Regions from separate parts of the Homo sapiens genome. Here region 2 is linked to region 1. Evidence: fine-mapped expression QTL. Tissue or cell type: spleen. Region 1 holds a variant in brackets; the other region holds the start of a gene. All regions are shown on one strand. Distances are between the middles of the regions.

The links. PIP is the estimated chance that this variant, and not a neighbour inherited with it, causes the effect.
Region 2: ABHD14B starts here. The variant in region 1 is fine-mapped to the expression of ABHD14B in spleen (GTEx, PIP 0.92).

Annotation. Positions count from the first base shown.
Region 1 is chr3:51,894,047-51,896,725 of GRCh38, reverse strand. IQCF1 (IQ motif containing F1) reads left to right here. Exons shown (of 4, transcript NM_152397.3): 4 at 1,390-1,850. The coding sequence ends at 1,836. Among named protein-coding and RNA genes, the nearest start is that of IQCF1, 8.0 kb to the left of the region's middle. The variant G/A (reference allele first, on the strand shown) is at 1,559.
Region 2 is chr3:51,972,558-51,975,236 of GRCh38, reverse strand. ABHD14B (abhydrolase domain containing 14B) reads left to right here and starts at 1,188. Exons shown (of 4, transcript NM_001146314.2): 1 at 1,188-1,272. ABHD14A-ACY1 (ABHD14A-ACY1 readthrough) reads right to left here and starts at 173. Exons shown (of 17, transcript NM_001316331.2): 1 at 33-173. ABHD14A (abhydrolase domain containing 14A) reads right to left here and starts at 173. Exons shown (of 5, transcript NM_015407.5): 1 at 33-173. The coding sequence starts at 101. RefSeq lists silencers at 1-249, 1,080-1,249, 1,470-1,619 and enhancers at 850-1,029, 1,063-1,999.

The DNA of each region.
Region 1 (2,679 bases):
TGTGTGTGTGTGCGTGTGTGTGTGTGTGTGCGCGCGTGTTTGAGCTTGTGCATGTATATGTGCTTGTAAATTAAGATTTAAAATGTGAAAGTTAAGAAAAATGATGATAGGGAAGAGATGTAAGTTTGAACTTTGGGGTGGAGGAACTTTTAATACTATGACATGTTGACGGAAAGAAAAAAGAGTTGAACTCTGCAAAATATTTGAAGAGATTTATTCTGAGCCAAGTATGAGTGACCATGGTCCATGACACAGCCCTCAGGAAGTCCTGAGAACATGTGCCCAAGGTGGTCCAGGCACAGCTTGGTTTCATACAAATTAGAGAGGTATGGGACATCAATCAAATACATTTAAGAAATACATTGGTTTGGTCCAGAAAGGTGGGAAAACTCGTAGTGGTGGCTGGGGAGAGGGCAGTGTTTCCAGGCTACAGGTGAATTTATACATCTTTTGACTGACAATTGGTTGAGTTTGTCTAAAGACCTGAGATTCATAGAAAGGGAACATTTGGGTTAAGATAAAAGATTGTGGAGACCAAAGTTCTTTTGAAGTCTTGTAGTGTCTCCCCTTAGAGACAACAGAGGACAAATGTTTCCTATTCAGATGTTAGTTAATCTCTTTAGGATTGAGAGGGTCTGGAAGAAAAAGATCTAGCTATGTTAATAGAGACTCAGATGCAAATTTTCCTCCACAAAGAACAGCTTTGCAGGGCCATTTCAAAATATGGCAGAGAAACATGTTTTGGGATAAAATATTTTTCTTCCTTGTCTGGTAATGTTATGCCAGGGTCAGGTTTGAAAATCAGTCACAATATATAGGGTTAAATAAAACCCATCTGATGAGAAGTTATGATTTGTGGGGCATGACTCCCCAGACCCCTTAGATAGGAATTTGGGCAACATAGAAAAAATCAGGGTTTAGTCTTCAGACATGACAGAGGGAGAGAACAGGCTGTGGCTATGAACGGTTGTCAGGGATGAGAAGGCAGGGCCGGCAAAGGATGTGACTTCTCCAGTAGGTGGAAGGGGTCTGAAAGAAAGGATCAGGCCTGGGTGGAACATGGTAACCCTTTGACCCTATATCACAGTGTTCTTGCTGGTCAACAAGGTCCATGGAAAACTGGGTGAGGTAGCCAGGGCAGGTGTGCCCCAAGATGGGGAGGACACTGAGACCCAGGGGCAAGTTGTTGTGCTTGTGGCTATCAACCAGAGGATGGCAGAGGCAGGACATCTACCTGATCTTCTGGTTCCAGCCAGTGCCCTGCCCAGTGCTCCTGAATTCCAGAAAAAGAGACAGTTGCTGATAGGGAATCAGGGCCTTTCCTGGCACACCCCAGAGCTGAAGCCAGTGGGGAGCATTCTCTGAAGGTCCCTCTTTTTTTCTTGAAAGCCCCCAGAAAACCAAAAGAAGCTCTCTGACAAAGATACGGTAGCCACCAAGATCCAGGCCTGGTGGCGGGGCACCCTGGTGCGTCGGGCACTGTTGCACGCAGCCCTCAGTGCCTGCATCATTCAGTGCTGGTGGCGGCTGATACTGTCCAAGATTCTGAAGAAGAGGC[G/A]GCAGGCAGCGCTAGAGGCCTTCTCCCGGAAGGAGTGGGCAGCAGTCACACTGCAGTCCCAGGCCCGCATGTGGCGCATCCGCAGACGCTATTGCCAGGTGCTCAATGCTGTTCGCATCATCCAGGCTTACTGGAGGTGCCGCTCCTGTGCTTCCCGGGGGTTCATCAAGGGCCAGTACAGAGTCACAGCCAACCAGCTGCATCTCCAGCTGGAGATCTTGCTGGACTCAGGGCCTTGCATTGTGACAGAGTGTATTCCCTTCTCAATAAAGGAATGAAGTGGTCTTTTCCAGATAGTCTCTGACAAGCTTCAGGTCAGAGCAATGGATGGCAGATACCTGGCATTTGATATACCAGCTCTGAGGAATGGGCAGGGCTTGTCTGAGGCCTCATGTGGAGCAGGACTCTGAGCCTCTTTTCTAGACTGAGCAGAGACTGTGATTGATTAGCAATGTGTGCCGTAGGAAGGAAAGTTGGGGGTACAGACCAGTCAATTGGCCAACTCCATGGAGCATCATTCGTATTTACATCATTCTGTGTACATAGTGCACCCTCCCTAGGACTTGGTATAATGGAAGCCTGGCGGGTGGTGGTCATGGCAATGGCAACACATTCTCCAGGAATTCACTCGTCTGGGTCTAGTTGCTCAGGGCTTGTTCCCCAACCCCTAGGACTGAGAGGAGCCCCCCAACCCCAAGCCCTGTGATCTTGTCTCCCTGCTGCACTGGGGGCTATGTCCTTATACTTGGCTTCTAAGAATCTGAGACCCAAACTGGAAGCTGTTAGCATAACTCAAGTCCTCATCCTAACCCCAAACCCCAACTGTCCCTTGCCCTCGAGCCCCGTATGAAAACTAGGACTCATTTTCCTCCAGACCAGGCTGGTATGGGAGGTTCCACAGGCAAGGGGGTGGGAGAGAGGGCATTTTGCTGCCAACCCAACCCTCTGGTGAGTGTTAGACCTCAGGCTATCACAGCTGCAGGAGCTGAGGAGGCATTAGTTTTGTGTTCCTTACCCTCCCCACTGGCCCAACTTCTGCAAGGGCCAATCCAGGCAGAGCTGGCTCCTCTGAAAGTCCCTCCCTGTGAAATGCTGCCAGCTGGGGTGGGGTTGGGGCCCAG
Region 2 (2,679 bases), 79 kb before region 1:
ACCGGCCGGCCTCCCTCCCCCGGGAGACTCACCGGGCCCAACGGGATGAGCGGGCGGGCCCCGCCCAGGCGGAACCAGCAGCCGCACAGCGCCCCGACCATGGCTGCCTCCGCAGCTCCGCGGGCCGCTCCGGCTCTAGGCGGCCAGGAGCGCGGCCATCTCGGCGCGCCTGCGCACTCCGCAGCCGCGGGCCTGCAACCCAGTTACCGAGTCGTCTGCGTGGAGGGGGTGCTGGGGGCAGAGCCCCAGCGCTCTCTGGCCCGCTCCCCGCCCAGATTTTCGGAACTGTTTTTGGCTTGAGAGCCGGCGGAGAGCCATGTGGCTTCTTCTCAGTGGAACATCTCCACCCTGGCTCAGTTCTCTGGCCTGTATAATGGAGTTAAGGATAAAACCCACCGCACAGGGTTGTCCTAGGTTCTTAAGGACGGGTCAAGCCTCAGAACAGTGTCCGGAGCAGAGGCCTCGTTGTGTAAATGCCAGATATTGTTATGCAGCAGCTCCAGGTCTTGGCCGACCCACTTTCCTGACTCCTACCCACTCCTCCCCACCCCCTCCCCGACGCACACCCACGGTCAGAGCCTGGGCTGGCCCTGGGCTCGTTCACGTCTACTCATGGCGCCTGCCCTGGTTGGCGATGTGTTACCAACGTCTGGCCTGTCCCAGCCCAAGGCTCCGCGTGGCGACCAGGCCCAGCACTGGGAGGCTGTGCAGAGCGTGGCGTTTACTGCTTATTGCTACTCTGCAGAGGTTGGCAACATCTGACCCGCTCTACTGGCAGGAAACAGGCTCGGGGGCATTGGGAAAACGATCAAGGCCACTTGGCTGGACACTGGCGGAGCCTCGCACTCAAACCTGTCGGGCCTCAACTCCGTGCCAGGCCAACAAGTTGCCCTGGGCAGTTCAAGCTGGGGATAAGGGGGATGGGGAGCAGGAAGACAGCAGCAAGGATGCGATCCCGAAGGAACTTTCCTCCTCAGACTGCTCCATGTCCATGTGGGGCAGGTCGCTGAAGAGTTCGAAACCGTGCTCAGCACCGCGTTTGGGGCATGTGAGACCGAGAGGCTTTGGGAAACTGACGCCGCTGTGAGAACGAGTTTAGCGGAGTCTATGGACGCTGCGAGCTTGTGGCCACAAGAGGGCGCCCCGGAGCACGGCCCAGTCCCCGCCCCCGCTGGATGGGGCCCGGCCTCTTCCCAGCGTTCCTCCTCCGGCCCCAGGTCACCGCCAGCACGCGCCTGCTTCCCGTCTGCGCGAGTCCACGCAGCTCCCCAGGTACCCGCCCTGCACTCCTGACCCTTTCTTCTCTCCAGTCAAAATCCAACCCCACCTACCCCAAGTCTTCCTTTCTCGGATCCCTGGGTCCCCTCCTTGGGAGTTGCCACCATTCCCTCCCGGTGCTCCCTTCCAGAGCTAGCGAGCCAGAACCGTAGTCCGCGGAAGCAACCTGACCGCGAGGTCAACGCGTTGGGCCCCAGGTGGCAGCGCGTTGAGCACCCCGCATCCCCGGCGGGTCGCCTTTCCCACTGGGCGCTTCGGTTTCCGCCTCTAGAAAATGGGCTTTCCGGTGTGGAAGCGCGCCTGTGGTTCCAGCTACTGGGGGTGAGCCGGGAGGATCACTTGAGCCCAGGAAGGTCAAGGCTGCAGTGATCCATGATTGCGCCACTGCACTCCAGCCTGGACGACAGAGCGAGACATCTTCTCTTAAAAAAAAAAAAAAGAAAAAAAAAAAAACCGAAGAAAATGGGCTTTTAGTTCCGGCGCGGTGGCTCACGCCTGTAATCCCAGCACTTTGGGAGGCCAAGGTGGGTGGATCACTTGAGGTCAGGAGTTCCGGACCAGCTCGGCCAACATGATGAAACCCCGTTTCTACTAAAAATATAAAAATTAGGCCGTGCACGGTGGCTCACGCCTGTAATCCCAGCACTTTGGGAGGCTGAGGCGGGCGGATCACGAGGTCAGGAGATCGAGACCACCCTGGCTAACACGGCGAAACCCCGTCTGTACTAAAAAAAAAAAAACAAAAAATTAGCCGGGCGTGGTGGCGCGTGCCTGTAGTCCCAGCTACCCGGGAGGCTGAGGCAGGAGAATGGCGTGAACCCGGGAGGCGGAGCTTGCAGTGAGCGGAGATGTGCCATTGCACTCCAGCCTGGGCGACAGAGCGAGACTCCGTCTCAAAAAAAAAAAAAAAAAAATTAGCCAGGCATGGTGACGCACGCCTGTAAACCCAGCTACTCGGGAGGCTGAGGCAGGAGAATCGCTTGAACCCAGGAGGTGGAGGTTGCAGTGAGCCGAGATCATGCCACTGCACTCCATTCTGGGCAACAAGAGTGAAACTCTGTCCCAAAATAAATAAATAGAATAAAATAAAATAAAATGGGCTTTTTACCCCAATTTGGGCTCCCTCTGGCCTGCATTGACAACTCATGACCTGTAACTTACCGTTGATTGAGCACTGAGCCCTTACTACGTGCTAGGCATGGTACATGCATGGCCTTATTTAATCCTATCAACCACCTATGAGCTAGTACTATTGAATTATCCCCATTTATAGAAAAGGATAATAACGATGAGAATAAGAACAGTAATTGTAATGGAGCCCCACCACATATTGAGGTTTTACAGCAGGCACCCCCACTGATAATTTTTCTGTTTTTTGTTTTTTTGAGATGGAGTTTTTCT